2 separate regions of the Homo sapiens genome follow, and region 1 is linked to region 2. The links come from fine-mapping of genetic effects on gene expression. A gene starts in region 2. The other region holds a variant in brackets. All regions are shown on one strand. Distances are from middle to middle. Region 1 overlaps CLIP2 (CAP-Gly domain containing linker protein 2). Region 2 holds the start of CLIP2 (CAP-Gly domain containing linker protein 2).

Region 1 (11,475 bases), 120 kb after region 2:
TCCCCTAACTCTTCCAGACCATCGGCAATTCCGGTTCTGCAAACGGCATCCACCAGCAGGACAAAGCTCAGAAACAAGAGGTGAGGGGCGCCTCGGGCCTCCCAGGTCCCTCCCGTGCAGGCAGACCTCTCTGGAGAAAATCCTTGAAACGTCACTAAGAATACACACAAAGATGCATTCTGCAAGAAGCTTTACAGTAGGGTCCCTCAGGGAGGGTGCTGTTGCAGGCAAACTTGATTCCAGATTCACCCTGCTCTTTTTGATTTGTGTTTTCTTCCCTTCTTAAAAAAGTTATAGGTTGGGCGCAGTGGCCCACGCCTGTAACCCCAGCACTTTGGGAGGCCAAGGCAGGAGGATCATTTGAGCCCAGGAGTTTGAGACCAGCCTGGCCAATATGGTAAAACTCCGTCTCTACTGAAAATACAAAATTAGCCGGGTAGGGTGGACAATATAGCGAGACCCTCTCTCTATTAAAAAAAAAAAATTTTAAAAAGGCTGGGCACAGTGGCTCATGTCTGTAATCCCAACACTTTGGGAGGCCGAGGCCGGTGGGTCACTTGAGGTCAGGAATTTGAGACCAGCCTGGCCAATATGGTGAAACTCCATCTGGCGGGCGGATCACAAGGTCAGGAGATCAAGACCATCCTGGCTACCACGGTGAAACCCCATCTCTACTAAAAATACAAAAAAAAATTAGCTGGGCGTGGTGGCGGGCACCTGTAGTTCCAGCTACTCTGGAGGCTGAGGCAGGATAATGGCATGAACCCGGAAGGCGGAGCTTGCAATGAGCCGAGATCGCGCCACTGGACTCCAGCCTGGGCGACAGAGCGAGACTCCATCTCAAAAAAAAAAAAAACCAAAAAAAAAAAAAAATACAAAATTAGCTGGGTAGGGTGGCGCACACCTGTAATCCCAGCTACACGGGAAGCTGAGGCAGGAGAATCGCTTGAACCTGGCAGGTGGAGGTTGCAGTGAGCCGAGATCGCACCATTGCACTCCAGCCTGGGCAACAAGCACAAAACTGTCTCAAAAAATAGTAATAAAAATTTTAAAAATTAGCTAGGTGTGGTGGCGCATGCCTGTAGCCTCAGCTACTCAGGAGGCTAAGGCAAGAGGATCACTCAAGCCCAGGAGTTTGAGGCTGCAGTGAGCTAGGATTGCGCCACTGCACTCCAGCCTTGGTGATAAAGTGAGACCCTGTCTCTAAGAAGAACACAGAAAGAGAGAGAACCTAGTTCTGACTGCAGAATCCCTGGAGCACAGATGCTCGCTAGAAACAGGAGCAGCACAGCCACAGAATCTGCCAAGCTCCAGACACAGGCAGGGTTATGTGGGCAGAGCCAGCCTCAGAGGAGTTAGTGTGATTTTGTCCTCCTGGCCTTGTTCTCCTGGCCACCCTGCGAGACACATGGGGTCATCCCAGTTCACAGATGTGAAAACTGTCCAGGTGCAGTGGCTCACACCTATAATCCCAGCACTTTAGGAGGCCAAGGCAGGTGGATCACTTGAGGTCAGGAGTTTGAGACCAGCCTGGCCAACATAGCGAAACCCCATCTCTACTAAAAATACAAAAAAAAAAAAATCATCTGGGTGTGGTGGCACATGCCTGTAGTCCCAGCTACTCGGGAGGCTGAGGCAGGAGAATCGCTTGAACCCGGGAGGCAGAGGTTGCAGTGAGCCAAGATCGTGCCACTGCACTCTAGCCTGAGCAACAGTGAGACTGTCTCAAAAAAAAAAAAAAAAAAGAGAGAGAGATCCAGCCCCGTACAGGCACTGAGGGCTCTTTGTAAAACCTGCTTCTGGCTGGGCGCAGTGGCTCATGCCTGTAATCCCAGAACTTTGGGAGGCCGAGGTGGGTGGATCATGAGGTCAGGAGATCAAGACCATCCTGGTCAACATGGTGAAACCCCATCTCTACTAAAAATACAAAAATTAGCTGGGCATGGTGGCGCATGCCTGTTATCCCAGCTACTCAGGAGGCTGAAGCAGGAGAATCGCTTGAACCAGGGAGTCGAAGGTTGCAGTGAGCTGAGATCAGACCACTGCACTCCAGCCTGGCGACAGAGCAAGACTCCGTCTTAAAACAAACAAACACACAAACAAACAAAAAACCTGCTTCTTCCCCTCGGCTCCGCTTCCCATCAGCACCTCCCACCCCACCTGCTGTCTCACACAGCCACAAACACACAGCAGGGAGACACTTCCTGCCTCAGGGCCTTGGCACATGCAGTTCGCTCTATGCTCCTCCCCCACCCGGCCCCAACTCCTTTCCTCCCTGACTCCCCTCTGGCCGCCTGGCCCTCCAGGCTCTCTGAGACCCTTGCTGATGATGCCCTTTACTCTCTCTAGGACAAGCACTGATCCTGAGGGGATACTGTGGAGCAGCCCAGTCCACACCAGAGCCCCACGCGGCTGCCCGGCAGTACCTCCTCCAGGCAGGAGCCGGGACTGTCACTTTGGAGACAAAACAGTGTTTGTAACAATAACGTACTCACCGCCGCGGACAATCCCCCACCCCGATCCCTCGCCAGACCAGGACGCTTCCTCAAGCCCAGCCTTCTACAGAGAGTGTGAACGGTACAGCCCCGGCCTGACCCGGGGACCTTCAGCCTGGACACCCGGCAGCTTCTGGAGTTTGTCAGTGGAGGCAGAGGGGATCCGGCCAGGCCCCTCTGTCCAGAAGGAGCTGCCCTGAGGACCATCTTAGCGGCCCTGTCCTCTTTTTCCGCCCATTCTCCCTCGGGTCTCCCCAGAGGGGCCGGCGGGGGCTGGGGAGGGGGTAAGTTTATCCATGCAGACACCAAGGGGGAGCATCCAGTCTTTAAGAGCCAAGTGGGGGCCCCTTTTCCGAAGCCACTTCCAGGCCAAGGCAGTCGCCAGGGCTTCTTGTCCCCACCTTCTGAACCTTCTTCAAACAGTAGTACAAGCTCCCCTCAGCCAGCCTGCCTGCCCAGCGAGGCCCCCAGGTTCAAGGTGTTGGCGGGGGCGGAGGGCAGGGGAACGGGATCCTTCTCCCGCTGCCCACCAACACCAACACACACACACCTCTAAGCTGCTGGCCGAAGATGTCACCAAGGCCAAAGACACAGTATTATGAAGGTTTGGAAACCCCTCTCCTCACCTCCCACCGTGACCTTGGGCAAACCCTGGCTCGGAGCCCAGGGCAGAGGCAGCTCAGAGTGGAGGCTCTAGGCAGGTTTGACAAAGGTCAGTAATACGGTTTCCCCTGGGGTTGACCAGATGTTCCAAAATATCTGCATCCACCTGGAGATGCAGCTAAGTGGGTCCTTATGTACACACCACGTTCACACACACACAGAGGGACCACGTGTGCACGCATGACCGTGTGGGTGGCGGCGTTTGCTGTGAACCACGCTCAGGCCACACAGAGACACATACTTGGTTTCTGGGACTGAGACCCAGGCCTGGCAGGACCGTGCCTACAGATACTGCAAACGTTCCTACAGCCTAGAGGTGCGTATACACACCCAAGTACACGCAGCCAGGCATTCAGGGGTGTGTTTGCCACATGGAGCATCCCTTCCTGGTCTTGCCAGGCACCTGCACAGAGCGTCTCCAGCCCCATCTCCTAACGGGGGCTGGGGGTAAGAGAAATCTAACTGCGCTCCCCCAACCCCTCGCCCTGCCATCTTCCCCTCAAGCCTGCTAAGTTATCCCAGGCCTGTGCGTGGTGGAAAAAGCCAGCCTTGGCCCTGCAGCCTCCACCTCGCCGCTGGGGGACCAACAGGTTGCTTACAGCTTTGCACCCCGGCATCAGCACAGGGGTCCCTGCCCCACCCTCCGGCAGCTCAGGGAGTGTTTTCCTGTGAGGCCTCCCCCATCAGTGGACCAGAGGGAGAAGCCCGATGCCCCATCCCGGCTTTCCCGTAACGCACAGGACACGTGTGCAATTCATAGGAACGGCCCAGATCGCCCTCATGAGTGCCACCTGGTACAGGTAGGTGGCGCTCACGTTCCTGCCCAAATGCAGCCCATCGGGGAGTCACAGTCAGTCCCCCCGGCCCCCCTCCCAGTCCCTGTTGGCTTTCGGTAGCTCTCGCATGCAGTTCTATTAACAGCCGTCTAGAAGCGATGCTTTAGTGGCCTAACCCAGGGTCAAATACAGCTCTTTCTAGCAAAATCAGGCAGCTCTGCCCCATCGGTAGGGGCACCGATTAGTCTACTAACAGCCAGAGGTCCATCTAG[C/G]AGGGTGCCGGGAGGAGCTGAGCCCCCGGAGGTGGGCTCCTGGTGACGGGTGTCCAAGAAGCGGTTTCCTTGGGAGCTTCTGCCTCCGTGGGCCTCTCAGCCCGCCCCGTGTGGCCGCCCGGGTGTGGCTCAGCCATGTCCCCTCCCCAGGTCCTTCATTCACCCCTCCCCTCCCCACAGTGGAATTGTTGAAGTGTGGCGAGTCTGTGCTCGGGACAATAAAGCTTGTGACAGGTCCAGGACCCCGGCAGTTGGCTTGTCTCCTCCTCTCCGTGGGGACCCCGGGCTTCTCGATCTCTCCCAATTCTTGGGCACCCTGGTGCCAGGAGATGGCCCCCGATCCTGCCCTCTGCCAGCTCATTCCTTCCCAGGTAGGCACGGCCTCAGAGGGGCTGGAGCTGAAGACATCTGGGGCTGTCCTTGTCCCAGGAGAGGCACCTTAGCAAGGACAGGCAGAGGACAGACCCAGAAAGGCTGCCAGAGAGGGCTGGTCCTGGGTTCACATTTGAACCTGCTGGAGGGATAAGTAGACCTGCAAAAAAAGTCAATGGAAACGGTAACGGATCCGCTCACACACGTGTGATGAGTCCGAGGCGGTTTCCAGCTTCAGTGGGCAAATTCCGGTTCCCGCAGCAGGCTTTCCGGAGATCAGATCAACAGCACGACGTGTTGCAAACTTTGTGGTCAAATAGGCTTTCAAGTGGAGGTTGCCCCCCTGGAAGAGAGAATGAGAATTTTTTTTTTCTCCCCAAGATGGAGTTTCACTCTGTCACCCAGGCTGGAGTGCAGTGTCACGATCTCTGCTCACTTCAACCTCCGCCTTTCAGGTTCAATCAATTCTCGTGCCTCAGCCTCCCAAGTAGCTGGGACTACAGGTGCGTGCCACCACACCTGGCTAATTTTTGTATTTTTAGTAGAGATGGGGTTTCACCATGTTGGCCAGGCTGGTGTTGAACTACTGACCTCAAATGATCTGCCTACCTCGGCCTCCCAAAGTGCTGGGATTACAGGAGTCAGCCACCACATCAGTTCCTCAAAATGTGTTCTTTAAAATTATTATTATTATTATTATTATTTTGTAGAGACAAGGGTTTCACTCTGTTGCCCAGGCTGGAGTGCAGTGGCGCGTTCTCAGCTCAATTCAACTTCCACCTCCCAAGTTCTTGTGCCTCAGCCTCCTGAGTAGCTGGGACTACAGGCACATGCCACCACACCCAGCTAATTTTTGTATCTTTAGTAGAGACCGGGTTTCACTATGTTGGCCAGGCTGGTCTCAAACTCTGGACCTCAAGTGATACGCCCGCCTCGGCCTCCCAAAGTGCTGATGTTATAGGCATGAGCCACTGCACCTGCCATTTTTGTTGTTGTTGTTTTGTTTTTGTTTTTTTTTAGACATAGGGCCTTGCTCTGTCACCAAGGCTGGAAGGCAAAGTCTCCATCATAGCTCACTGCAGCCTCCAACTCCTGGGCTCCAACAACCCTCTCACCTCAGCCTCCCAAAGTGTTAGGATTACAGGCATGAGCCATTGCGCCTGCCCAACTCTTTTTTAACTCTTTGATTTTGAGATCATTTTAGACTTACAGAATAATTGCAAAAAATAGTGGCATTCCCATACATTCTTTCCCAGCTCCCCCTGACATTAACATCGCACATAACTGCAGTACAATGACCCAAACTAGAAAACGAACATTGGGCCAGGTGGCTCATGCTTATAATCCCAGCACTTTGGGAGGCCGAGGCGGGAGGATCACTTGAGCCCAGGAGTTCAAGACCAGCCTAGGTAGCATACCAAGAACGTTGTCTCTTTAAAAAAAAAAAAAAAAAGCCGGGCATGGTAGCTCATGCCTGTAATCCCAGCACTTTGGAAGGCCGAGGCTGGTAGATCACCTGAGGTCAGGACTTTGAGACCAGCCTGGTCCACATGGTGAAACCCCTGTCTCTACTAAAAATACAAAAATTAGCCAGGCGTGGTAGCGTGCGCCTGTAATCCCAGCTACTTGGGAGACTGAAGCAGGAGAATCGCTTGAACCTGGGAGACTGAGGTTGCAGTGAGCCAGGATCGCGCCACTGCATTCCAGCCTAGGCAACGGAGCAAGACTACATCTCAAAAAATATATAAAAAATAAAAATAAATAAACAATTACCTGGGTTTGGTGGTATGCACCTGTAGTTCCAATTACTTGGGAAGCTGAGGCAGGAGGATCGCTTGAGCCCAGGAGTTTGAGGCTGCAGTGAGCCATGATCACACCACTGCACTCCAGCCTGGACCACAGAGTGAGACTCCAACTCTAAAAATAAAAAAATCAAAATGGGTAAAGGATCTGAATACATCTTGCTCCAAAGAAGATGTACAAATGATCAATAACACATGAAAAGATGCTCAACAACATGAGTCATTAGGGAAATGCAAATCACAACCACAAAGAGATACCACTTCATACCCACTAGGATGCCTAAAACTTTTTAAAAGATAGTAGCAAGTGTTGACAAGGATGTAGAGAAATTTAAACTCTCATATATTGCTGGTGGGAATGTAAAATGGGGCAGCTGCTTCAGAAAAGTTCGGCAGTTCTTCAAAATATGTTTTGTTTTGTTTTGTTTTTTAAGACGGAGTCTCACTCTGTCGCCCAGGCTGGAGTCCAGTGGCACGATCTTGGCTCACCGCAACCTCTGCCTCCCAGGTTCAAGTGATTCTCCTGTCTCAGCCTCCCAAGTAGTTGGGATTACATGTGTGTGCCACCACACCCAGTTAATTTTTGTATTTTTAGTAGAGACAGGGTTTCGCCCTGTTGGCCAGGCTGGTCTTGAACTCCTGACCTCAAGTGATCCACCCACCTTGGCCTCCCAAAGTGCTGGGATTACAGGCGTGAGCCACTGCACCAGTTCCTCAAAGTATGTTTGTTTACTTTTTTTTTTTTTTTTTTTTTTTTTTTTAGAGACAGGGGTCTCACTATGTTTGTTGCTCAGGCTGGTTGTAAATTCCTGGGCTCAAGCAATCCTCCCGCCTCACCCTTCCCAAAGGGCTGGGATTACAGGCATGAGTCACCATGCCCAGCCCCAAAATGTTAAACACAGAATTACCATATGACCCAGAAGTTTTACTCCTAACTATATACTCAAGATAAATTAAAGCATTTCCACAGAAAATTGTGTACACACATGTTCATAGCAGCATTATTTGTAATAGCCAAAAAGTGGAAATAAAGGTCCAATCAACAGACAAATGGATAAACCACATGTGGTCTATCCATATAATGGAACATTATTTGGCCATAAAAAGGAATGAAACGGCCAGGCGTGGTGGTTCACACCTGTAATCCCAGCACTTTGGGAGGCTGAGGCAGGCAAATCACTTGAGGTCAGGAGTTCGAGACCAGCCTGGCCAACATGGTGAAACCCCATCTCTACTAAAAGTACAAAACAATTAGCTGGGTTGGTGGTGTGGGTCTGTAATCCCAGCTGTTCAGGGAGCTGAGGCAGGAGAATGGCTTGAACCCGGGAGGCAGAGGTGACAGGGAGCCAAGATCACGCCACTGCACTCCAGCCTGGGCAACAGAGCGAGACTCCGTCTCAAAAAAAAAAAAAAAAATAGAATGGGCCGGGCGCAGTGGCTCAAGCCACCAGCACTTTGGGAGGCCAAGACAGGCAGATCACAAGGTCATAAGATCGAGACCATCCTGGCCAACATGGTGAAAACTCATCTTTACTAAAATACAAAAAATTAGCCACGCGTGGTGGCGCACGCCTGTAGTCCCAGCTACTTGGGAGGCTGAGGCAGTGGAATCACTTGAACCTAGGAGGCAGAAGTTGCAGTGAGCCGAGATTGCACCACTGTACTCCAGCCTGGCGACAGAGCAAGATTCTGTCTGCCCCCCCACCAAAAAAAAAAGAATGAAACACTGATATTTGCTACAACATGGATATACCTCCAAAGCATCCTGTTAAGTGAAAACAGGGAGACACAGTCACGTACTATATGATTGCACTTACGTGAAATATCCACAAAGACGAATCCATGGAGAACAGGCAGATTGCCGATTGCCAGAGGCCAAGGGCTAAGGAAAAAATGGTGAGGAACTGCGTGATGGAAATGTTTTGGAATTCACCTGACCAAGAAACAGTAAAAAACAACAAAAAGGAAGGAAATGGTAGAGGTGGTAGCTGTATGACATTGTAAATGTACTAGGGCCTCTATGCAGTGATTAAATTAACGTTATGTGCCCTTCACCTCACTAAGATACTTTCTGAAAAAGAAGCTGGGCGCTGTGGCTCCTGCCTGTAATCCCAGCACTTTGGGAGGCCGAGGCGGGCGGATCACAAGGTCAAGAGATCGAGACTATCCTGGCCAACACAGTGAAACCCCGTCTCTACTAAAAGTACAAAAATTAGCTGGGCGTGGTGGCAGGCGCCTGTAGTCCCAGCTACTAGGGAGGCTGAGGCAGGAGAATGGCTCAAACCCGGGAGGCCGAGGTTGCAGTGAGCCAAGATCGCACCACTGCACTCCAGCCTGGTGACAGAATGAGACTGTCTCAAAAAAAAGAAAAAGAAAAAGAAAGCTATCCTTGTCTACTAACAAGGAAACTTAAAAAAAGAAGAAAAGGCTGGACATGGTGGCTCATGCCTGTAATGACAGCACTTTGGGATGCTGAGGTGGGGGAGGATTGCTTGAACCCAGCAGTTCATGATCAGTCTGGGCAACACAGTGAGACCTCATCTCTACAAAATATTAAAAATTAGCCGGATCAGTCGCCATGGCTCAAGCCTATAATCCCAGCACTTTGGGAGGGCGAGGCAGGCAGATCACTTGAGCTTAGGGGTTTGAGACCAGCCTGGGCAACATGGTGAAATCTTGTCTCTCTATAAAAATATTTTTAAAAATTAGCAGGGCATGGAGGCGGGTGCCTGTAATCCCAGCTACTTGGGAGGCTGAGGCACGACAGTCACTTGAACCCAGGAGGCAGAGGTTGCAGTGAGCTGAGATCACACCACTGCACTCAAGCCTGGGTGACAGAGCAAGACTCCATGGGGGGAAACAATGAGCCAGGTGTGGTGGTGCATGCCTGTGGTGTATGCCCAGCTACCTTGGAGGCTGAGATGGGAGGATCACCTGAGTGTGGGAGATTGAGGCTGCAGTGAGCTGTGATCATACCACTGCACTCCAGCCTGGGCAACAGAGTGAGACCTTGTCTAAAAGAAAGAAAGAGAGAAGGAGAGAAGGAGAGAAGGAGAGAAAGAGAGAGAAAAGGAAAATGAGGGAGGGAGGAAAGGAAGGAGAGAGGGAGGGAGAGAGGGATGGAAGGAGGAAAGGAAAATCTAGCCGGGTATGGTGGCACACATCTGTAATCCCAGCACTTTGGGAGGCCAAAATGAGAGGATAGCTTGAGCCCAGGAGTTAAAGGCTGCAGTGAGCCATGATTTCATCACTGCACTCCGGCCTGGGCAACAGAGTGAGACCCTGTCTCAAAAAAAAAAAATTACATTATGATAGTTGCCATGGTTTCACATGTATACCAGTATGAAAAATTATTATTTGTTAATAATAACATCAAAGGCCGGGCATGGTGGCTCACACCTGTAATCCCAGCACTTTGGGAGGCCAAGGCGGGCAGATCACCTGAGATCAGGAGTTTGAGACCAGCCTGGCCAACATGGTGAAACCCCATCTCTACTAAAAATACAAAAATTAGCTGGGCGTGGTGACAGGCACCTGTAATCCCAGCTACTTGGGAGGCTGAGGCAGGAGAATTGCTTGAACCTGGGAGGCGGAGGTTGCAGTGAGCTGAGATCGTGCCATTGCACTCCAGCCTGGGGGACAAGAGCGAGACTTCATCTCAAAATAATAATAATAATAATAATAATAATAAATAAAAATAACAATAACACCAAAGTGTATTAGGAATACAATTTGGAACAGTAATAAATGAATATTTTTAATGGTTCAAATAATTTCAGGGAAAAAACTCAATCAGTGCAATTTATCATGTTAACAGAATAAAGTAGGAAAAACCTACCAAGAACTGTTTGAGCAACTGCACTAGACTGCAGGGTGTGGGCAGAGGGTGAATGAATCTGTTTGATGTCACTTGATTTAAAAGTTGTACGGGGGCTGGGAGCAGCTCACGCCTGTAATCGCAGCATTTTGGGAGGCTGAGGCAGGTGGATCACTTGAGGCCAGGAGTTCAATACCACCCTGGCCAACATGGCAAAACCCCGTCTCTACTAAAAATACAAAAAAAAAAAAAAAATTAGCTGGGCATGGTGGCGGGTACCTGTAATCCCACCTACTCAGGAGGCTGAGGCACGAGAATCGCTTGAACCCGGGGGGGGGCGGAGGTTGCATTGAGCCAAGGTTGTGCCACTGCACTTCAGCCTGGGTGACAGAGTGAGACTCTGTCTCAAATACAAAAAAAAAAAAAAAAAAAAAAGTGAAACTGTTTTTAAAAAAAAACAGTAGGGGATTGAATGTGGATCTAGGGGGCCAGCAACAGCTGGCTGGGTCTGTGGTTCAGCAAGATCAGCCTGGATTGGGGCTCCAATCTGTTCCTGTTTTCTCACCAGCAGTTCCACTGTGCTGTAAGGCGTTAGTAAAGGGATGAGTGAAGGTTGGAGAGTGCTCTTATCTGCTATTATCCCTCGCCTCCACTAAGATTCTGACATCTGAGGCTGAAGAAAATGACAAGACTATCCGGGCGGGGAGGCTCATGCCTGTAAACCCAGCACTTTGGGAGGCCAAGGCAGGTGGATCACTTGAGGTCAGGAGTTCGAGACCAGCCTGGCCAATATGGCGAAACCCTGTCTCTACTAAAAATACAAAAATTATCTGGGGGTGATGGTGCACATCTGTAGTCCCAGCTACTCTGGAGCTCTGGAGGCTGAGGCAAAAGAATTACTTGAACTCGGGAGGTGAGGTTTCAATGAGCTGAGTTCTCGCCACTGCACTCCAGCCTGGGTGACCGGGTGAGACTGTGTCTCCAAAAAAAAAAAAAAAGAAAGAAAGAAAAAGAAAATTACAAGACAGCCCAGACCCCAGACCCTGCTTGAGGTTCCACAGTGAAAAATACCCAGATAGAGCACACTCTTAGGAAATATTCTCCCAGGGGTGGGTGCAGTGACTCATGCCTGTAATCTCAGTGCTTTGAGAGGACAAGGTGGGAGGATCACTTGAGTCCAGGAGTTTGAGACCAGCCTGTGCAACATGGTGAGACCCCATCTCTACAAAAAAATAAAACAATTAGCTGGGGATGGTGGTGTGCACTTGTAGTCCCTGC
Region 2 (11,968 bases):
GCAAAACCCTCGTCCCGACATCAGAGGCGTCGGGGCTAGGGTCCCTCCTGTTGCTGGGAGGAGATGGAAACCCAGAGTGTGGGGATCCCGTTCTCAATGACTTGCTTTTTCTCAGCTCACACCTAAGGTCCAGACCATCTCCTCCCATCTGTCACCATGCAGTCCCCGTATGGCCTAGGGAACCAGGCTTCAGGTCTAAAATTCGTCTCTCCACTGCCTAGAACCCTCCAGGGCTCCCCATTGCCCTTAGGAAAAAGCCCAGTTTTACAGCCCTGCCATACAAGGCCCTCCCTGACTGAGTCCTGCCACTCCTCTGCCCTCATCTTGGTCCCCATTCCCTGGCCACTTGAGCTCTTCAAGGTTCTTCCCACCGTCAGCCTCCGCCTGCCACATCCATCCTTCAAGACACACCTAGGCTGTCACCTCCTCCGGAAAGCTGCCCTTAAGCCCCACACTTAAAGAATTAAATGTTTGTGGCCCAGGCCAGGTGTAATGGCTCACACCCGTAATCCCAGCACTTTGGGAGGTCAAGGCGGGTGGATCACCTGAGGTAGGGAGTTCAAGATCAGCTTGGCCAACATGGCGAAATCTCGTCTCTACCAAAAACACAAAAATTAGCCAGGCGTGGTGGCAGGTGCCTGTAATCCCAGCTACTCAGGAGGCTGAGGCAGGAGAATTGCTTGAACCCAGGAGGCGAAAGTTGCAGCAAGCCAAGATTGTGCCACTGCACTCCAGCCTGGGTGACAGCGAGACTCCATCTCAAAAAAAAAAAAAAAAAAGTATCAGAAGGATGCAAAAGAACCCAGAAGAGATGCCCCCTTAGACCTGGCCTGAGAGAGAAAGTGTGGTTTTGCAGAGGAGTCCTGGGAGCAGCCCTGCAGGAATCAGGGGAGAAAGAGCCCAGCCTGGTCCAGGGCAGTGTCCCCGGGCAGATGGCTCCTGGAAACTCGGAATAAACAAGCTTCAGTGCGTGTCACTGCCTTGGGCCGGGTGACATAACGCACAGATGTGCAACCATAGGACTCAGGGACTGCGGGGCTAAGTGAGTAATAGCAGCTGTGGAGGACGGTCTTGAGGCTGGAAACTGACAGACTGCAGAGGGGCCCTTAGCCAGCACCTTTAGAGACTTCCCCCAGCAGGAGGAAGTTGGGAGTGTTTTCCCTAAGTGAGGAGCGGTGGTGCGTGCCTGTAATCCCAGCTACTTGGGAGGCTGAGGCATGGAGGATTGCTTTAGCCCAGGAGTTCAAGACCAGCCTGGGCAACATAGCAAGACCCTATATCAAAACATAAATAAAGCTTTTTAAAATTTTTGCTGGCCTTTGCTGGCCCACTTCTCTTGCAATAACAAGGTCTGAATAAGCAGGCTTTGCTTGTTCTCTTTGGGGTGGTCTTCATTTATCAACACAATCCATGCGAAGTTTTTTTGTTTTTGTTTTTGTTTTGAGACAGAGTTTCTCTCTTGTTGCCCAGGCTGGAGTGCAATGGTGTGATCTCGGCTCACTGCAACCTCCGCCTCCTGGGTTCAAGCGGTTCTCCTGCCTCAGCCTCCCAATTACCTGGGATTACAGGCATGAGCCACCACACCCGGCTAAGTTTGTATTTTTAGTAGAGAAGGGGTTTCTCCATGTTGGTCAGTCTGGTCTCGAACTCCCAACCTCAGGTGATCTGCCAGCCTCCACCTCCCAAAGTGCTGTGATTACAGGCGTGAGCCACAACACCCGGCCTCATGCAGTTTTAAGCTTAAGCTTCTCTCGTAACAATCCTCAGCCATGTCAGCTTTCCTTCACACAGCAGGGGAGGCCTTGTTATCTTCCCTTGGGAAATCCGGGGAGGCTGCATAGAAAAAGCCCCCATGCATCTTGGAAACCCCCAACGAGGGGAAGTCCCCCTATCACCTGGCAGCAGAGAGCTACTATGGCCTTCCTTTACCACTGGGCTGTTTCCACTAGCACTGTACCAAGCCAGAGGGAAGTACCGGAGCTTCCTCCAAGACCGATATACCCCAAGGTGGGGAGAACTGGATAAAGGCAAAGTCCATGCAGTTGAAAGTAAGGGTGTGGCCACCGGCGTGATAGCCTTAGCTGGTATCTCCGTGGTGATGCAATTCCCAGCCTGTGCCACCTGCCACCCTGTGCAGCCTCTGCTCTGCTAGGCAGAAAGGTCACAGCAACATCCAATCATTTCAGCAGAAGCGGTTTGGGTTTAAGTTTCTTTTATTAGTCCCCAAAGCAGCACATGCCTGTTGCAGAAAAATTCAGAAAAGGGAAGAAAAAAGTCCCACGGATTCCCCCCACCCAAAGCCCACCACAGTTACCAGTTTTTTTGAGACAAGGTCTCACTTTTTCACCGAGGCTGGACTGTAGTGGTACGATCTTGGCTCACTACAACCTCCGCCTCCCGGGTTCAAGCGATTCTCCTGCATCAGCCTCCTGAGTAGCTGGGATTACGGGCATGTGCCACCATGCCTGGCTAGCTTTTTGTGTTTTTAGTAGAGACAGGGTTTCATCATGTTGCCCAGGCTGGTCTCCAACTCTGGGGCTCAGGCAATCCTCCTGCCTTGGCCTCCCAAAGTGCTGGGATTACAGGCATGAGCCACCACAACTGGCCCACAATTTTAAAAATAAAATAAAATAAAATGGGATCTTGCTCTGTTGCCCAGGCTGGAGTGCAATGGTATGATCATAACTCACTATAGCCTCCAACTCGTGGGCTCAAGTGATCCTCCCACCTCAGTCTCCCCACTCGCTGGGATGACAGGCATGAGGCACTAAGCTTGGCTCCATATCCGCAGTTTCATGAAGTGTATTTTCCTGGTGGGTGTAAATACGTAACTGTTTCCCCACATTATAACAAATGCCTTGTAAACAGCAGTTCAGACACTGCAAACATATCCCATCCTGTAGCTGTCCTATGGATTCTAAAATGAAAAATAAAAAAATAAAAATAGGCCAGGCGTGGTGCCCAGAGCCTGTAATCCCAGCGCTTTGGGAGGCCGAGGTGGGAGGATCACTTGAGGCCAGGATTTCGAGACCAGCCTGGGCAACATAGAAAGCCTCTGTCTCTACCCCTGAAAAAGTAAAATAATAAATAAACAAATAAATAAATAAATAAATAGTATACCAGAGAGATCGCCACCTGCAAAGCAGCCCAGGCCTCTCCCGTGGCTGGCCCATTGCAGGCCTCAGAGAATTCAGCTCTGGCTCGAAAATTATTCCCAACTCTCTCTTCCCATGAAAAATCCTCCCGTGAGGCTGCTGGTCACAGCCGGCGTCAGCAAGAAAATGACCAAATCAGCAGTTTCAGTGGAGACAAAAGGCCTGGGTGAGAGGTCGGCTGGGAGAACACCCCCTCCAGATCCCCCCGCCTGCCTCCCCACCCATCACGGAGGCCTGATGCCAGGGCAGGGGCCAAGGCCAGGACCCCAACCCTCACATCAGACAGCATCAGGTTCATCTACTGAAAGAAGCAGAAAAACTCGAACGCAAACTTTTTTTTTTTTTTTTTTTTGAGACAAAGTCTTGCTCTTGTTGCCCAGGCTGGAGTGCAATGGTGCGATCTCAGCTCACTGCAACCTCCGCCTCCCGGGTTCAAGTGATTCTCCTGCCTCAGCCTCCCAAGTAGTTGGGATTACAGGTGTGTGCCACCATGCCCGGCTAATTTTTTGTATTTTAAGTAGAGACGGAGTTTCACCATGTTGGCCAGGCTGGTCTCGAACTCCTGACCTTGTGATCCGCCCGCCTTGGCCTCCCAAAGTGCTGGGATTACAGGTGTGAGCCACTGTGCCCGGCCCCCCAAATGCAAACTGTAACAAGACAGAAGCCTGTCTTCTCTCATCTGGAGCAAGAACAAAAGGTGTCCCTCTCAGGTGACTTGCTCTTTGAAGCTCCACTCACCAGCGGCCAGGTAAGGTCTGTTGACCGCAGGCTGTTGCTCTGAATAATACTGGGGGCCATCAGTGAGGGAGGCAGTACCTGTGAAGGTTGGGGGCCCCTGCCTACCTCCTGAGGCACATGTGGGAGGCTAGATCTGCTGGGCAGGGGCTGGTGAGCTCAGGTACATCCCAGCAAGACCCATGTCACCTTGGCAAATCCCTGCCCCATCCCGTCCCGTCCCGTCCCATCCCATCCCATCCCTTCTGTTGCCCAGGCTGGAGTGTAGTGGTATGATCTCCACTCACTGCAACCTTCGCCTTCTGGGTTCAAGCCATTCTCAAGCTTCACCCTCCCGAGTAGCTGGGATTACAGGCATGTACCACCACACCCAGCTATTTTTTGCATCTTCTGTAGAGATGGGGTTTCATCACGTTGGCCAGGCTGGTCTCGCACTCCTGACCTCAGGTTATCTGCCCGCCACCACCTCCTAAAGTGCTGGGATTACAGGTGTGAGCCACTGTGCCTGGCTGGTTTATAACTGTTGATATACAGGTTATGCATCCCAGCCACAAGGAACAATTAGCTCCCTGTTTCCTGAACACTGCCCTCTCCACCCTGAGTCCCCTCCCTCCCTATGGGTTCACACCTCCTACAGAAGCCCAGTCTTTCTGGAGTTCACTCTGAACCTCCTCCCTTATTAGTCTCCAAGTCTGGCTCTCCACACCAACTGGGCACCCCCTCAGGGCTGACCCCATGCCCAGCCTCCATCATTACAGCATTGCATGTTCGCTGAACTGAATTGAAACACTCTCCCCAATTTACAGATGGGGAAACTGAGGTCAAAATGTTTAGGCCAGGCACGGTGGCTCACAGCTGTAATCCCAGCACTTTGGGAGGCTGAGGTGGGAAGATCATCTGAAGCCAAGAGTTTAAGACCAGCCTGGACCCCAACATAATGAGACCCCATCTCTATAAAAAACACAAAAAATTAGCCGGGCATGGTGCATGCCCGTAGTCCCAGCTACTCTGGAGGCTGAGGCAGGAGGATCATTTGAGCCTGGGAGTTTGAGGCTGCAGTGAGCTGTAATCACACCACTGCACTCCAGCCTGGGTGACAGAGTGAGACCCCTTCTCTAAAAAAAGGTTCACTCACTTCTCAAAGATTATGGATACCAAGACAGTTGAGGGGTGGTAATGTTAACTTAGTAAGTTCATTCATTCATTCAACAAATATTACTGGATGTCTACCCTCTGCCAAGCATTGCACTGGGTCCCTTAGGGGATAGGAACAAGATCGTATGTGGCACTTCTCTCCCGCAGAACAGTGGTCTCACCATACAGACCACAACCTCCCCCAACACCCACATTCCTGCACTCAAGGGAAAAGCAGGGACATTTAAGCTGTGCTTTGAAGGGGGAATATGATTTGTCAAACAGAGAAAGGGGGCAGGGCAGGACTGGTAGAACGGCCAGCTAGGTCAAAGGCATCCAGGCGAGCTTATCAAGGGGGGACAGAGGGAAACCAAGCCACAGAAGCCAACCGCAGCCTGGGCATGGACAGGGGCTGGGGCTTGGTCACTGTTTAGTTCCTGAGCTGTCACTTGGCATCTGCCTCTCCACGCAGGAGGGGACCTGGCAGCTGCCTCAACTCCTCTGAAATAGCAGTACATGCATCCTGTCCTGGGGAGGGTTCATTTGTATCTTGGAAGCTGATCACCATGAGATCCTTTTTTTTTTTTCTTTTGGGACGGAGTCTCGCTCTGTCACCCAGGCTGAAGGGCCGTGGCTTGATCATGACTCACTGCAGCCTCGACCTCCTGGGCTCCAGCGATCCTCCCACCCCAGCCTCCCCAGTAGCTGGGACCGCAGGCGCGCGCCCAGCTAATTTTTGTATTTTTTGTAGAGACGAAGGTTACGTTGCCCAGGTTGTTCTCGGACTCTTGGCCTCAGGCGATCTGCACGCCTTGGCTTCCTGAAGTGCTGGGATTACAGGCGTGAGACACTGCCCAGGCTATGAGATCCTTGATAACCATGAGACCCTGTGCCACAGTTCCCCACCCACGCTGGCCCCAACACAGACCTGAAGTTTTCGCCCCAGCTGCACTGTCCCCCTCCTCATCCTTTCTGTCCAGCGCCAACAGCATCTCACCTTCCCAAGCTGCCGTCCTTCCCAATGACCAGAGACATCTTTGCAAGCATAGCATGGCTGGAGGATGCGTTTCACCAAACGCGATGTAAGCACCACCAGGTGCCCAGCGCGGAGGTGGATGTGGGCGAACCCTGGACGCCCCACAAAGGACAGCTGCGGCCTGGGAAGGGAAGGAGATGGAGCGGGGAGAGGGGGAAGAGGTTGCTCCGCGTTTTCCGCCCGCCCGCCTGCTTTCCGCGAGGCACTGAGGCCTGAAAACCGCGAGGCCGCCCACGCGCGCCTGACCCGCCCCCCCCTCCCGCCCGCCCCAGGCCCCGCCCTCCCGCGCCCGCCCCTGCGCCGGCCCCTTTTGTTCCCTCCCGGAGCCGGGCCGCTGGCTCCGCTGGCTCCGCTGGCTCCGCGGGCGCTCAGCTCGGCTCGGCCGCGGGGCGCGCAGGCGGCTGCTGGGCGGCCTCGGTGCGCGCCTCCCGCCTTCCCAGAGACGTGGCGCGAGGCCCGGGCCCTGAGCACCTATCGCGGGGATCCCCGGCGCCAGGAGGGGGTGCAGCCGGTGGGCAGCGCCGCGCAGGGAGGGGCCGCAGCATCCTCGCCCCCCAGCGCGCCCGGGCCCGAGAGGAGGAGGCCGGGGCTCTCCGGGCCTCCCGCCGCTTAGCCTGATGCTGGAAGGACGAAGGTAGGGGCTGCTGGAGGGGCCGAGGGAGGGGGTCGCGCGGGCAACAAAGGACGGAGAGATGCGGGGGGCGGCGGCCTGGCCGAAAGCGGGGCTGCGGGCCCGGAGGCATTGTCGGGGCGTGGGCGGGGGCGGGAGGGTTCGAGGCCGGCCGGTGGGCGTGGGCGGGAGCTGGCTGGGGTGTGCCCCAACTTCCCCGTTGCTTGTAGGAGAGGAGGGGGCACTGCTTGGGGTGCCAGGGTTGGGGGCTATTCCCGGGCTGCGGGTCCCCCTGTTGAAGGCATCACCAGCCTCATCGGGGTCCCTACCCTCGGACGGGGGTTTGGCCCTTCTGTTGGAGGGTCGCCCGTACCCCCTTCCAAGGGCAGAGCAAGACGGCTGGACGCGCCGCAGGGCTCTCTGGGCTCACAGAGCCTGGGGAGCACAGCCTGGTGGGCGCGGCCATGCAGCCCCCATCTCCAAACCTGGGGTCTGGGAGAACAGGGACTGCCCCCCTCTCCTCCCTGCTACACCCTCTGGGGTCGCCTGGCCGATGGCCTTTGCAAAACTTGGTTGAAGTGCTTGGCTGAGGTGGGGTAGGAGGAGATTGAGGCGGGCGGCTTCTCTCAGGGGGTGTCCCCCCAAGCTGGCGCTGGTGGCTGGTGAGGCAGCAGATTTTCTGCCCTCCTCCCGGGGAGGGGCGGCGGCCGCGGAGGATGCTTGGCTGAACCTTCAGGGCCCGCCCGTTTGGACCTTTCAGGCAGAGCTTGGGCCGAGCGGGTGCCCACTGGGCACTGCCACGCAGGCCCCAGCCCCACCCTGGGAAGGACGGGCAGAGGGAGCACCTTGGGGGGAAATCACCCACCCAGCAGTGTGTCCCCCAACGTCTGAGACCCCTCCTCTCACTTCTGGGTGAGAAGTGGGGGTCTGGGATGAGGGGGTCTGCCGTCACTCTTGCGCGATGCCTGAGGGAGGTGGGTGGGGTGGCCTAGGGCTGTGGGCAGAGGAGGAGGAGGGTGCGGGGAGCACCACGTGTGTGCTTCAGAAGCCTCTTCCCTTTCGGTTGTAAATGTAAACAATAAGCCCTTCATTCAGCTGCTGTTACCTGGCCTGGCACTTCTAGGGGCTGGCTGGTCCACAGGACAGCAGCCTCGGTGTCCCCAAAAAGTGCAGCCCCGGGGGTTGATGAGTGCATTAGTGGGGAAGCTGGGGGCATAGAGGGGGTCCCCTGGAGGATGGGGCAGACCAGGAAGCTTCATAGAGCATCTTGCAGAAGTTTGCTGCCAGGTTGCCTGAAGGGGGTTTCGTGCAGGAGAAATAGCGTGAATAAGGGCTTGGAGTCAGAAAAGGAGGCTATTGGGTTAGAGAAACAGCTTAGGATTTAAGGAACTTAGACCTGCGTTGAGCACAGGATGCATTCTTGTCTGCAGTGCCTTGCGGGGGAATGATGGGATTCTGGCTTCAGGACAGGTGGAGGCGGTGGAGATGGAGAGGGGCTCCAAAGGCAGAAGAGGCAGGTGGAGGCGCCTGGGAGGAGCCTCCTCCACACACACCTGTGTGCACCTGCAAACTCCAGCCCTCAGCACCGTGCAGGCTGGGAAGGTGGTGCCTGGAATTCTGCACTCAGAGCCCAAAGTCCCAGCAGGGGGAATTTACTCCAAGGAGCAGTAATCGCTTTCCGGCATCTGCTGTCTACCTTGGCGGTGAAGAGTTCAGATGCTGGAGCTTAACAGCCCGGGTTCAAATCCCAGCTCTGCCACTCCCTAGCTATGTGACCTTGCACATTGCATCTCTCTCTGCCTCGACATCCTCATCTGTAAAATTGGGATCCTTATGGTATCTGGCTTTTAGGGTTGTTAGGAGAACTGTGTGCCCTGTGACAGAGTAGATGTCCTATAAGTGTTGTTGCTGCCGTACAGAGTGGCTTCCTGGCCCCACTCACACACGTTTCAGGGAGAGGAGGCTCGTGCCCCTTCCAGGCTGTTTGTCCTTCTTCAGCACCCTTGCTGGTTAGCCCTGACCCGGCACCTGCTGTTCTCTGCCTCACTGCAGCCTCCTCCCTGGTCCTGCCTCCCTTGGTGATAGAAAGGCCATCTCCCCACAGCCCCAGTTGTCCCTGCTCCCCACCTGGCAGGCCTGCCCACGTGTGGTCCCCCAGTTCCCTCTTGGCCTCCCCTCCTGGCCCTGCCACCCTGACAGTTGATCCTGCCCTCTTTTTTTTTTTTTTTTTTGAAATGGAGTTTCACTCTTGTTGCCCAGACTTGAGTGCAATGGCGCGATCTTGGCTCACTGTAACCTCTGCCTCCTGGGTTCAAGCAATTCTGCCTCAGCCTCCCAAGTAGTTGGGATTACAGGCATGTGCCACCATGTCCGGCTAATTTTAGTATTTTTAGTAGAGACGGGGTTTCACCATGTTGGCCAGGCTGGTTTTGAACTCCTGACCTCAGGTGATCCACCTGCCTCAGGCTCCCAAAGTGCTGGTATTACAGGCGTGAGCCACTGCACCCAGCCAGTTCTGCCCTCTTGACACCACCTGCTCTACCTCCACTTCCATACACAGGGGAGGGAAGCTGCATTTGTGACCCTCAGATTCCCTGCTCATTGGTTCTTGTGAGAACTTCAGCTTTTGTGCAGGTTGAAAAAAAAAGTATATATTAAGTGCTTACTTTGTGGAGAATTGTTCTGAGCTTTTTTGAGACAGCATCTTGCTCTGTCGCCCAGGCTGGAGTGCAGTGGTGCCACCTCGGCTCACTGCAACCTCCACCTCCCAGATTCAAGTGATTCTCCTGCCTCAGCTTCTCGAATAGCTGGGACTACAGGCCCATGCCACCAAGACTGGCTAATTTTTTGTAGTTTTAGTAGAGGCAGGGTTTCACCATGTTGATCAAGCTGGTCTCAAACTCCTGACCTCAAGTGATCCGCCCACCTTGACCTCCCAAATTGCTGGGATTACAGGCGTGAGCCACCACGCCTGGCCTGGTTCTGAGCTCTTTAAATTCATTCCTTCATTTGTGGATATTTTAATAAGGTTGCCTACATTTTACAGATAAGAATATCCTGGCACAAAGAGGTGGCTGTGTCTGCCCTTGATGGATTTGCTAAGCACCTACTGTATGCCTGGGAGGCATGCTTCCTTCGGCCACACCATTCTACCCACCCTCTTCGGGTTCATGTCCCTGAACAATTATGATTCTGCCTTCTCAGACACCTATCCCTTTTGCTCAGGTGCAAAGTCCAAACACGCTATCTAGCTTTTAGGGTCCGCCCCCAGTTGGCTGTATCTTTCCACTGCAGCTCTCCCCATGCTCCCAGGCTGGGCACACCCAGGCTTGCCTCACCTAAGGCTGACGTGGCCCCTTTAATAAACTGTGAGGAGTGGGCATGGTTTGAGGAGCAGGGCTGGCTTTGAGGGTGGTGTGGGGGTGCCCTCCGATCCCATACCTTTGGGATTATTTTGTTGCAAGGAACAGGAACCTGCTTCAATTAGGTTAAGTGAAAAGGGACTTAAGAGTGGAGAACAGAGAACTTGTGCAGCAAACAATTGGAGGCGACCTGGCCCCCCGGGACCCCGGAAGCTGGCAGGCAGCTCCTCCTCTGGCTTTCCTCTCTGTGGACTGCGGTTTCATTTTTTCGGCCTCTCTCAGCGCATCTGTCCCGTCTCCTTCTCCTTTCCCCTACAGGCTCCGTCTCCTTGGGTTGTGAGTGTGGCTGTGTTGAATGGGGCTGTAGCCTGAGTCCACGGGACCTCCCAGTGGGGGTCTCCTTCATCTTGGGGTGCAGAGAGACACTGATTGGTCCAGCCTGGATGAGGAAGCCCACCCGCCTCTGCTCGGCTAGTGGGGGGGCAGGTCACGTGGTCTCTGGGGCTGGCACAGTTGGGATAATTGGTTGGCTGCATTGATGATGAAGGTTGTGTGTTAGGTGAGGACCAGCAAATCTGGGCATTCAGGGAGTTCATGAGCTGATGGGGGAGGCAGACCCGTGGTCAATTAGCCATTGTGCCACAGGATGTGGGACTTGCAGCATGATTTGTTGAAAGAAACCAGAGTGCACTGATCAGGCCAGTGTGGGGAGGAGAGGACAGGTGGGATGGCCAGGGCTGCCTGCCACTGGCTTCCCCCAGCCCTGCCCCGGGACAGGAGGAGGCTCTCTCCTTTCAGGACCTGGAGATTTGGGTCCAACCGGCAGCGTGGGACTCGGGCTTTTTTTTTGTTTTTTTTTTTGAGATGGAGTTTCGCTCTTGTTGCCCAGGCTGGAGTGCAGTGGCATGATCTCAGCTCACCACAACCTCTGCCTCCCGGGTTCAAGTGATTCTCCTGCCTCAGCCTCCTGAGTAGCTGGGATTACAGGCACGCGCCACCACGCCTGGCTAATTTTTGTAGTTTTAGTAGAGATGGGGTTTCACCATGTTGGCCAGGCTGGTTTCGAACTCCTGACCTCAAGTGATCTGCCCGCCTTGGCCTCCCAAAAGATAAGGAGTTCAAGACCTAGTATTACAGGCGTGAGCCACTGCGCCCAGCCAGAGCCTCCTATCCTGGCTCTTCTCACTGGGCTGCAAGGCTAGGGCCGTCACAACAGAACCAGTAATACAAAACTCATGTTTGCAGAGGAAATGCTTCAAAATGTTAATGAAACGTTTCCCTTCTGAATAGAAGGCAGAACAGGCCAGATGGTTTTTATTAACGAGGCCTGAATTTAGGACCTTCTCTACTTAACGGCTTCTGTCTTGATGGAGCGTTTCTTGCTCCATGGCTGGGATCATACCTTCCACTCTAGCCTGAGCCCTGAGCGACACCCGCTCCCGATTCATTTCCCTCCTTTGCCTTTTTGGTCCCTTGGGATGAGAGGGCGGAATTTCCGGCTCACCAGGAGGAGCGCCTGGTTTTTCAGCGTCACCCCCGTCACCCTGAGGTCTCAAGCTGGTCTGCCCTTGCCTGTAGCTAAACCTGGCTGATGCTGCCCTAGCTCCTTTTGGGGGTGCTCCAGCCCCTGCCCACCTCACAATGTGCAGCATTGAGCTTCCACAAGCTTTTACTAAATTGGGAAGACATCCGCCCTGCTTCCTGACAATGTAAACAATATCAGCCCTTTCCAGAAACATTTCAAGGCCAGACACTTTGATGCCTAGTGGAGCTGTTGGCTGGGCAACGGCTGCATATTGATCTGAAGGTTATGCAGGGAGGCTGGGCTCTGGTGTGGTGGGTGGGGTAGTCTGAAGGGCTTCCTGGAGGAATAGAACTGGGGCTAGGTTTTGTTTTGTTTTGTTTTGAGACAGGGCCTGGCTCTGTCACCCAGGCT

The links.
Region 1: its variant is fine-mapped to the expression of CLIP2 in monocytes (Fairfax 2014, PIP 0.95).

What each region holds. Positions count from the first base shown.
Region 1 is chr7:74,401,488-74,412,962 of GRCh38, forward strand. It overlaps CLIP2 (CAP-Gly domain containing linker protein 2), which reads left to right. Exons shown (of 17, transcript NM_003388.5): 16 at 18-80; 17 at 2,350-4,448. The coding sequence ends at 2,361. Among named protein-coding and RNA genes, the nearest start is that of GTF2IRD1, 47 kb to the right of the region's middle. RefSeq lists enhancers at 3,179-4,043, 4,044-4,906. The variant C/G (reference allele first, on the strand shown) is at 4,207.
Region 2 is chr7:74,283,041-74,295,008 of GRCh38, forward strand. It overlaps CLIP2 (CAP-Gly domain containing linker protein 2), which reads left to right and starts at 6,367. Exons shown (of 17, transcript NM_003388.5): 1 at 6,367-6,694. LOC107986742 (a long non-coding RNA gene) reads right to left here and starts at 6,267. Exons shown (of 2, transcript XR_001745024.2): 1 at 6,022-6,267. RefSeq lists enhancers at 1-258, 1,744-1,983, 6,721-7,365, 7,366-8,009 and silencers at 1-73, 6,286-6,755, 6,776-6,845, 11,539-11,833.